Homo sapiens: one gene and its partners. The protein of the gene in region 2 purifies or fractionates together with the protein of the main gene of each other region. This does not show direct contact. Each region holds a gene or a part of one and is shown on either strand. Other genes may lie near its edges.

What was found.
Region 1: the proteins of CDKN2AIPNL (region 2) and WAC purify together in Homo sapiens (affinity purification with mass spectrometry; one large-scale study listed by BioGRID and IntAct). This does not show direct contact.
Region 3: the proteins of CDKN2AIPNL (region 2) and PLEKHA8 purify together in Homo sapiens (affinity purification with mass spectrometry; one large-scale study listed by BioGRID and IntAct). This does not show direct contact.

Annotation. Positions count from the first base shown.
Region 1 is NC_000010.11:28,616,579-28,620,117, reverse strand, and holds part of WAC (WW domain-containing adapter protein with coiled-coil), read right to left. Parts: intron 2,462-3,539; coding exon 2,334-2,461; intron 582-2,333; coding exon 512-581; 3' UTR 1-511.
Region 2 is NC_000005.10:134,405,207-134,408,918, forward strand, and holds part of CDKN2AIPNL (CDKN2AIP N-terminal-like protein), read right to left. Parts: intron 1-3,712.
Region 3 is NC_000007.14:30,031,343-30,035,054, reverse strand, and holds part of PLEKHA8 (pleckstrin homology domain-containing family A member 8), read right to left. Parts: intron 1-3,712. UniProt on the Homo sapiens protein: Cargo transport protein that is required for apical transport from the Golgi complex. Transports AQP2 from the trans-Golgi network (TGN) to sites of AQP2 phosphorylation.

The DNA of each region.
Region 1 (3,539 bases), on a different chromosome or scaffold from region 2:
CAAGTGTGGAAACAGTTGTTTCATATTTTGTACACTGCCCATATGGTTCAAAATCGTATCCTTAGACACAAATCGCCTGGCGCTTGCACTGAATTTTTGAAAATGCAAGATTTCTGAATGATAAATTAACCCCCCCAATTTTTTTTTTTTTTTTTTTAAAAAAGCTAATTTTGCAGACAGGTTTACATGTAAAAGGCTAGGTATTTAGCCACCTCAGCATTGATTAGTTTTGGATGTCTAAGCTCTGTTACACATGGCTTCCCATGGCTTCACTCTACAAAACATATTTACAACGTGAAGGATACATCTACAAGAAATCTACATTTCAAGGGTTTTACAAATCAATCTTGTATCTTTCCCCTGAATTGACTCTCACAGACCCCGTCCCCTTGTCATTTCCTTTGCCCAGCTTAACGGTCCAAAGTCTACTTAAATGCAGCTCAAAAATGTTAAGATTGGGCAACAGATTTACAGTTCCTGTTCTCAAAACCATGTGCAATTATTCACATCTTCACACCATGAAGGAATTCTGATTTTTTAGCTTTTCAAGTTCCTTAATTTGTTGTCTCAAAAATAGTATCCTGAAAAAAAAAAGCAGACATTAGAACCTGTGTACATATACAAATATTACAGAAAACCCGAGCTTTTATAATTAAAATTTTTTAAATTAAAACAAGTGATTTCTAATTAAGGCAAAGAAATTTAAAAAATTATTTAACTATAAATTGGTTTACAGTTAAGACAAAGTAAACATTTAATACATAATATCTATTAAAGTATAAGGATGATGAAAGGATGTTTTAGTTTTCAAACAACTTTTTATTTTATTTTATTTTTTGAGACAGAGTCTTGCTCTGTTGCCCAGGCTAGAGGGCAGGGGTGCAATCTTGACTCACTGCAATCTCCGCCTCCCGGGTTCAAGCAATTCTCCCTGCCTCAGCCTCCTGAGTAGCTGGGATTACAGGCACCTGTCCTTACGCCCGGCTAATTTTTATATTTTTAGTAGAGACAGGGTTTTGCCATGTTGGCCAGGCTGGTCTTGAACTCCTGACCTCAGGTGATCCGCCCACCTTGGCCTCCCAAAGTGCTGGGATTACAGGCGTTAGCCACCGCGCCCAGCCTTTTCTAACAATTTCTTAATAATTCCTTTGGCTCTAACAACTTAAAATGTATTACTTTATAAACCGTATCATCACAATAAAGAAAGCAGTAGCTATTATACATGAAATAAACCTATACTGCATGTTTTCTGGCCCACTATACAGTAAAGAGTAGAATTAACCAGGTGTAAGAGATTAATCATTTAGAAGAGCAATTCTCAATGTAGATGTAGGTACATAAAAATGAAGCCAAAAACCAAAAGTTGAAACACACAAACCCCAGTTACCCAGATTCCCATGAACGTAAAAATATTTCCTGTTTTTACTCTTCTCTTCTGGGAACTATAATATTTATTGCCTGTACACATGAATTAGGCATAATCAGGCTGGCTTGATATTTGACTGTATATACTGTTTTCCTAAGATGCAATAATGAATAATTTCCCAAAAGTCGAATGATGTAACAAGCCAAAATGAAGTTTGTTAGAACTACTTTCAGAGCAATCTGACTATAAGAACCCAAGTTGTTACTCAGAGAGTACCTCCAGATATTTTAGTAACTGTAAATAAACTTACTTTTTCAAGTTGTACTATAAACTCCATTTGGTATTTACTAAATATTTATGGTTTCTTGACAAGATTCAATCGACCTGTAACTCTGTGACTTGCACAGACAGGACATAAAGCCATTGCCAAGTTTGTCCTCAATTCTGTAATAGGCATTAAAAAATAATACCTATGCTATTATTATTGTGACCTAGATATTCTACTTGAGTGAAACACTAGATTAAGAAATACAAGACAAGAGTTCAGGTGAAAAATACTAAGACAGCAGATACACTAAACTTGCTAGACAAATTCTTTCTATACTTTTCAAGGGATCTATTGATGATGCAAGGACAAATAATCTGAAATTTCAATGGAAACACCCTCAGCAAGAGAGGACATTTATAATTAGTTGTGGTCAATATTTCATTTTTTCAGTAATATATTATTGCAGCTTATGGAGTTATGAGAAAAGTCTAATGAAGCATTCATCATGGGTTAAGAGAAAATCGACAGGCTTTATCCTTCACGAGAAATATTAACTTATGAAAATGCAGTGATAGAATGTGATCAATGTATCGAAGAGAACTTTACATTTCATAAATAAAATGTGATTTACATTCTTTAGTTCGATTTAAGAATCATAATCCTGAGAAACATAAAAATATATTTCAGTGAAAGACTTACCTTTGCTCTCGCAAAGTTGCTTGAATTTCACATACTCGGACTAAAGATCTTAAATTTTTTAATTCAGTACAAATTTCGGACATGTGAATAGTTCCCATGTTATGCGCTTCTTCGCGTAATCTTGATGCCTGTAATTAAAGAAATGAAGAAAACATAAAATATAAACATTAACATACACAAAATAAAACATTAAATTTCTGAGTACAATTTTATACTAGGATTAGAGAATAATCCTTTTCCCTTCAATACACAAAAATGCTGGTGAACCTAATGGGGAAAATTAATTTGTTTTAAGAAACTGTCTCTAAGGGTGGAAGGTACTTATTTTAATATTTCTCTTCTAAGTTGGAGAAAATAGGATTTCCAACCTGAAGCTAATACAGCACTAAGAAAGGACTCATAATTTGTGGTTAATAAAAGATGCTGGGTCAGCCAAAGAGATTGTCATTTCTGCAAGTTCAGGTATTAGATATTGATTCAAGAGCCTCACTATACTCCTCTATCGTAAGACACACAACATATTCTCTGTAAACTTTCGAACACCCCAGATGGTCAGTTATCTGATAAAAAGCAAGAGGCAAATGGCAGTAACTGGAATGTCCTAAGGTCTCTCATCCCAAAGCAAAAATGTTTCCTAACTTCCAGTTGCTAGTCTAGTGAGAGAGTCATAGAAAATTAAGTGGGGTTTTTTTTTGTTTTTTTGAGACAGAGTCTCACTGTGTCACCCAGGCTGGAGTACAGTGGTGCAATCTCGGCTCACTGCAACTTCTGCCTCCTGGGTTCACGTAATTCTGGTGCCTCAGGCTCCCGAGTAGCTGTAATTACAGGTGCATGCCACCATGCCTGGCTAATTTTTATACTTGTGGTTAGAGATGGGGTTTCACCATGTTGGTCAGACTGGTCTCGAACTCCTGGCTGGCCTCAAGTGATCCACCTGCCTTGGCCTCCCAAAGTGTTGGGATTACAGGTATGAGCCACTGCGCTTGGCCAGTAGATTAACAGTGCTAATGGAATCTGAAACTATCAGAGAAGCTGAGTGGAAAAAGTACACTGGCTTTGAGCCACATCACTGTTAACTGGGTGACCCTGGGATCAAGGTCTTATGCACTATTTGGTCTTAAGGACTTCAACTCTATCTACACTGCTTAGCTGTTTTAAGAAGTAGAGAAAATAAATATAAGGCATTAAGCACTGAGCTAACTGCTG
Region 2 (3,712 bases):
GCCATTCTCCTGCCTCAGCCTCCCGAGTAGCTGGGACTACAGGCGCCCGCCACCGCGCCCGGCTAATTTTTTGTATTTTTAGTAGAGACGGGGTTTCACCGTGTTAGCCAAGATGGTCTCGATCTCCTGACCTTGTGATCCGCCCGCCTCGGCCTCCCAAAGTGCTGGGATTACAGGCGTGAGCCACCGCGCCCAGCCCATTTTTCTTTTTTTTAATTATTATTTTTTGAGACAGAGTCTCACTCTGTCGCCCAGGCTGGAGTGCAATGACACGATCTCGGCTCACTGCAACCTCCACCTCCCGGGTTCAAGTGATTCTCCTGCCTCAGCCTCTTGAGTAGCTGGGATTACAGGCACGTGCCACCATGCCCAGCTAATTTTTGTATTTTTAGCAGAGACGGGGTTTCACCATGTTGGTCAGACTGGTCTCAAACTCCTGACCTCGTGACCTGCCTGCCTCGGCCTCCCAAAGTGTTAGGATTACAGGCATGAGCCACCACGCCCAGCCTTCATAGTCACTTTTCATACTGCCATTTTCCCTCTTGGGATAAAAATGTTCTCAGAAAAAAATGGACCACGTAAATTAGGTTGACAGCTTCTTTCTTTGAGTCAATAATGATAGCTTCCTAGTCAATCACTCCTTTCTCCTTAAAACATTACCTTGGAAATATTAATTCTGACAGTCATAGCAATGACATCTTTCCTGAGTCAGCTGCTGCTCTTTGTTAATTATCGCTCATTAATTGGTAAGGTGAGCAACCACAAAGGCTGCCAGCAGTAGCCTAGGATGGCAGTTAGATAATCAAGATTGTTTACTCAATGTATGTGTGTTTGAATCCCCTTTCAAAAGAAAAAAAATCATATACTGCAACTGTCCAACAAATTCCACCTGTCAGAAACCAATGCTCATTTCTTTTCTCAGACTTAAAAAAAGAGCTGGACAGATTGCAGAGATCTACTTGCCTCAAAGCTGCAGAATAGCCATAAAGTATTTTTAAAATCTTAAAGAGCTTATGTCTCCAAATCATCATCACTGTCTGTCTTGAGATACCAACAATGCCAGGCAATTTACTTCCACTTGGTAGCTAGCTTTAAAACCCAACTAAACTCTAATTTTTTAGCTAAAGCATCAATTCTGGGCAGAACAACAACAGACGTTTTCAGGTGTATGGCTGGACATCAGGAGTATTTTGTCTATGGGCTGGCAATGTTGCCTAATGTTTTTCAGCATCCTCTGTCATGTGTGCAAAAACTGCAGGCAAAGGATGAAACTGCTGCAAAGTCCTCATGGCTCTCTTTCCAGTGGCATTCAATGGAGAGGGGACAGCCTTCAATACCACACAAATTTGTCATGGTACATAGATCAGATGACTCGTTCTCAGAATGGGCTTATCTGGAAGAGTCTTAAAGATTCACCAGGCACAGTGACTCACACCAGCACTTTGGGAGGCTGAGGCAGGTGGATCATTTGAGACCAGCCTGGGGAACATAGCAAAACCCAGTCTCTACAAAAATTAGCCAAGCATGGTGGTACACACCTGTAGTCCCAGCTACTGGGGAGGCTAAGGTGCAAGGATCACTTGAGCCTGGCAGGTCAAGGCTGCGGGTAGCCGTGAGCAAGCCACTGCACTCCAGCCTGAGCCACAGAGAGAGACCCCTGTCTGAAAACAAAACTGGCAAAACTCTATGCACCCTCTAAGTATCTCACTTTTCAGGATCAGCTGAATTTCACTTAGAGTGGCATCAACAGACTAAAGTTAAACCTGGCTACTTAGAAAAACATAAGTTTTATTTGAAGGAAGTTGCAACACACAATTCAAAAATGCTATAGAAGTATGGCCTCTATATAGGCTTCTTCCACATAGCTAACTGCTAATGATTAGTAAGATGGCGGCACTGGTTTCAAGAAGATAATTTCATGCCTGAGGACTCTTCTCTGTAGACTCACACTGTGCAATGACAGTGTCAAGAATGAACATCCCAGGGCAGGGGCTCTGTACATTTTTTAGGTATAAGACCCCTTTAGGATGTTTCAGAAAGACCCTTCCTAACACACACACACACACACACACACACACACACACACACACACTTCACACTGGTCTATAGATAATGTTTGGGACGTGCCAAACCTCCTTAGTCTCCTACTGGGGTCTGCAGCCCAATGTCATTAGGTGTTCTGATCTCTAATACCCAACATGACTGGAAAGAGTTCAGATACCTTTCAGAAAACATATAAGACAGAGAAGTATAATGGAGAACTGATATAAAAAATCAGAAAACCTTGCTGGGCACAGTGGCTAACGCATGTAATCCCAGCACTTTGGGAAGCTGAGGTGGGTGGATCACCTGAGGTCAGGAGTTCGAGAACAACTTGGCCAACATGGTGAAACCTCATCTCTACTAAAAAATACAAAAAATAGCCGCGCGTGGTGGCAGGCGCCTGTAATCCCAGCTTCTTGGGACGCTGAGGCAAGGGATCGCTTAAACTCGCGAGGCAGAGGTTGCAGTGAGCTGAACCATTGCACTCCAGCCTGGGCAACAAGAGCAAAACTCCATCTCAAAAAAAAAAAAAAAGGAAAATCAGAAAACCTCTTAGAAACAAAAAGGAAAGAATCTATCACAAGCAGTTAAAAAATAAAGGCTCGGCCAGGTGCAGTGGCTCACGCCTGTAATCCTAGCACTTTGGGAAGCTGGGCAGATCACTTGAGGCCAGGAGTTCAAGACCAGCCTGGACAACATGGCAAAACCCTTTCTCTACTAAAAATACAAAAATTAGCTGGGTATGGTGGCACCCGGCTGTAATCCCAGCTACTGGGGAGGCTGTGGCGCTAGAATCACTTGAGCCTGGGAGGCAGAGGTTGCAGTGAGCTGAGATCGTGCCACTGCACTCCAGCCTGGGTGACAAAGTGAGCCTCTATCTAAAAAATAAATTAAAAATAAAGGCTCACCTCATTCCCTGCCTACCTCTGCCCCTGCCCCTGCCCCATAAGGTATACTCCAGTAGCCAGAAACTATCTAGCTCCTCCCTGGCTGGGCCCCAAGAACCTTACTATAGAACACCCAAGGACTGCCCAGTATTTTTTTAAGTATTACATGAGAAGATCCAAAAAGCCACACACTCCCAATTCACACTGCTCCCTGGCTAAAAACAGTAGCCCCTTTTTAACAGCTGATTTTAGTCCTGGTGCGGTGGCTCACACCTGTAATCCCAGCACTTTGGGAGGCCGAGGCGGGCGGATCACGAGGTCAGGAGATCGAGACCATCCTGGCTAACACGGTGAAACCCCGTCTCTACTAAAAATACAAAAAAAAAAAAAAAAAAAAAATTGGCTGGGCGTGGTGGCAGGCGCCTGTAGTCCCAGCTACTCAGGAGGCTGAGGCAGGAGAATGGTGTGAACCTGGGAGGCAGAGCTTGCAGTGAGCCCAGATCGCACCACCTCACTCCAGCCTGGGCGACACAGGGAGACTCCCTCTCAAAAACAAACAAACAAACAAACAAAAACAAAAAAACAGCTGATTTTACTTACTGATTTTTTGTCAGGAGTACTGTGTTGAGGTAACAGCTGATTTTAAAACATAATAGCATCTCGAAAACCAACCTGAAGCTTTTCCCCAGGTTCAGATTAAAACTAAAAGAATACTTTTTTAAGAAAAACAAACCATCCTGAAAATCAAGTGGGGTGTACTATTTGGGACTGAAATACTTTAT
Region 3 (3,712 bases), on a different chromosome or scaffold from region 2:
AAAAAAAAAGCTGTACTCTTACCTCATATCGTACACAAAAATTAATTCAAAATGGATGAGAATTAAATGTAAGCACTAAAAACTATTTTTAAAGCCTTAAGGGTAAATCTTCATGACCTTAGGTTTGGCAATGGTTTCCTAAGATAATGTAACACCAAAAACAAACAAGAAAAGAAAAAATTGATAAATCAGACTACATCAAAATTTAAAACTTTTGTGTTGCAAATGATACCAGGAAGAAAATGAAAAAGACAACCTACAGAAAAGAAAATACAGTTGATCCTTGCATACCATGGGTTTGAATTTCAACCGTGCACATGCGGATTTTCTTCCACTTCTGCTACCCTGAGATAGCAAAACCAACCCCTCCTCTTCCTCTTCCTCTGCCTCCTCAATGTGAAGACAGCAAGGATGAAGACCTTTACAATGACCCACTTCCACTTAATGAACAGTAAATGTATTTTCTCTTCCTTATCATTTTCTTCATAACCCTTTCTTTAGCTTACTTTATTGTAGGAATGCAGTATACGACACATATGACATAACATATGTGTTAATTGTTAAAGTTATTCATAAGGCTTTTGGTTATTCGCAGGCTACTGGTTAAGATTTTGGGGGAATCGAAAGTTACATGCAGACTTTTGACTGTGGGGATTGGTGCCCCAACTCCTGCATTATTCATGGGTCAACTGTATTTGCAAATCATCTATCTAACAAGGAACTTATATCCAGAATAAAGAACTCTTGGCCGGGCACAGTGGCTCACACCTGTAATCCTAGCACTTTGGGAGGCCGAGGCAGGCGGATCACCTGAGGTCAGGAGTTCGGACCAGCCTGGCCAACATAGTGAAACCCCATCTCTACTAAAAACACAAAAAATTAGCCAGGCATGGTGGCACACACCTGTAGTCCTAGGTACTCAGGAGGCTGAGGCAGGAGAATTGCTTGAACTCGGGAGGCGGAGATCACACCACTGCACTCCAGCCTGGGTGACAGAGTAAGACTCTGTCTCAAAAAAAAAAAAAAAAAAAAAAAAAAAAAAAAGAAACCTCTTACAACTCTGTAATGAAAAAATAACCCAAACAAATGGGCAAAAAATGCAGACATTTTTCCAAATAGATATACAAATGGATAATCAGCATATAAAAAGATAATCAACATCATTAAGTCAGAGAAATATAAATCAAAACCATGAGATATCATTTCACATCCACTACTAGGATAGCTATACTAAGACGATAATGAGGTTGATGAGAATGTGAAGACGGAAACTTCTTTGATTACTGACGAGAATGTAAAATGGTGCAGTCACTTTGGAAAACTATTTGGTAGTCTCTCAAATTATTAAATAAAGAGTTATCATAGGACTCCAGCAATTCCACTCCTAGGTATTATAGATATCCAAGAGAAATGAAATCATGTCTATACAAAAACTTGTACATGAGTGTTCACAGCAGTGTTATTTCATAATAACCAAGAAAAACAAAAACAAAAAGAACAGCCCAATCCAAATGTTCTTCAACTGAAAATGGATAAACTAAATATGGTATACATATACAATGAAATATTATTTGGTAATAAAAAGGAATGAAGTTCTGATACATGCTATCCAAAAAAAACATTATGCTACGGGAAAGCAGCCAGCCACAAAAGACCACATATTATATAATTCCATTTATATAAACTGCCTAGAAGAGGCAAATCTGTGCAGACAGATTAGTGGTTGCCAACAGTGAAGGGCAGGTGTAGGTGTAGGAGTGACTGCTAATGGGTACTGGGTTTCTTTCTGGGATAATGAAAATGTTCTAAAATTGATCATGGTAATAGTTACACTTTTTATATATACTAAAATCACTGACTTGTACATTTTAAATGGATGAATTTTATGGTTTATGAATTATCTCCATAAAGATGTTAAAATGTTAACAACAACAAAAAGGGTTGACCAGTGGTTGTGAAACCAAGAATCCTCATACTCCAGATGTCTTCCTGGTACTGTTTACACAGCACTAGTATATATAGTATATAGGGCAAGAGTCACCTTCCTCCACCTGAGGGGAAACAAAATTATAGCACATCCTTAATGAAAACCATCTGGCCAGTATGATGCAGGCTTTTGTTATTTTCAGAATGCAGTAATGCAATGTGCTTGAGCTTTAACCTGCTGGAGAGGCACAAGCAGCCTTCGGCTGGCTGGAGTTCACAACAGCAGCCCTCCTATCAGCTGAGTGGGCAGGAAAAGGACCTAAAACTACAAAGTAGAAAGCACAGGTTAGAAAATTTCCTCGTGGCAAAACATATGCACAACATTGGGCAGTCAAAGCTTTCTTCACTTCTGAATTCCTCCCCACTTCCCACCCCCGAAATAGTCTGCTATTCTAGGTCAAACATACTTTAAATATAGGTACATTATGAATCAGCTAGAATTACATAATGATCAAGCAAGAAGGACCTTTAAAAGTATTGTCTAATGGAGCACTGACTCTGAAGCCACTTAATAAGTGGCTGTGTGACCTTCAGCAAACCCACGTCTCTATATCTCAGTGTCTTCATCTGGAAAATGGGCATAATAAAGGCAACTGTTTTTTGAAATTGCTGCAAAGACTGAGTTAATCCATGTAAAATGTTTAGAAAAGTGCTTGGCACATTGTAAGTACTAATAAATTTTTAACAGTTCTTACAATTATAAACTAGTAAATCCCATTATTTTAAATGGAGGAAGATACTAAGGCTCAGGATGCTAAAGTGACCCTGCAGTTGGCAGTAATAGGGCTGTTTGCCAGGCTTCAGGTCTCTCTGACTCCTGAACCAGCGTTCTAGAGTATTAATGTGTAGCCCTACATGTATAATACTCCTTGACTAAATTTTAGGTCTTGAAAGACACAAATAACAAACACAGTGCTTCTTTAGAAGTATGTCTCACACAATGTGGGAATCTGTAACATGTTTTTAATTTACTCTCTTCATCCCAAGTTTAATCTTCTAACATCTAAAGAAAGGTACTGGCACTAAATCCCGGAATGTCCAAAAGGCAGGATGAAACCAGACTGTAAACGAAAATACATGTAAACTTTTTTTTTTTTGTATTTTTCATTGAAGGAGGATAGAGTACCTGAATACGCTTAGCATTTAAGGGAAGAGACTTCTTTTCTCTTCTAGAAATACACTCACATAAACCTCAGACGCTATTATCAGGGCTTGATGAATTCTAACTTTCAGTAATTAATACCTATCGATTTAAAATTCAAGAGGCAAAAGAAGCTCACAAAATAATAATACATAGTATTTAGTGAAGTACAATAAATGCAGCAGGAGAGATATAAAGATGTAACCAGAAAATGTTCTACGCTACGCTAAAGCCAGAGTAAGCTTTTAAACAATCTCATCATTTCTCTCTCACAGACGCATGCATGCATGTACCCACATGCACACACACAATCACATCACAGTGTTTAAACCAGCCTATGAGGCCCTGAAATATCTAGCCTCCCGCACACCCCTGCATCTTTGTTGGAGCCTCACTCTCCTCAGCTCTCAGCCAGATGGGTCCTCTTTCCTTTCCTCAAACTCGCACGTCTCCATTCTGCTTTGGGGCCTTGACACTGGCATTCCCTGTGCCTGAAAAGTTCTTCTTTATTTCCTCTAACTACACCTCTGCCTTGGCCTCTCCAGCGAACTATTAACAGCTTGATTTATCCTTCAGACTCTGCTT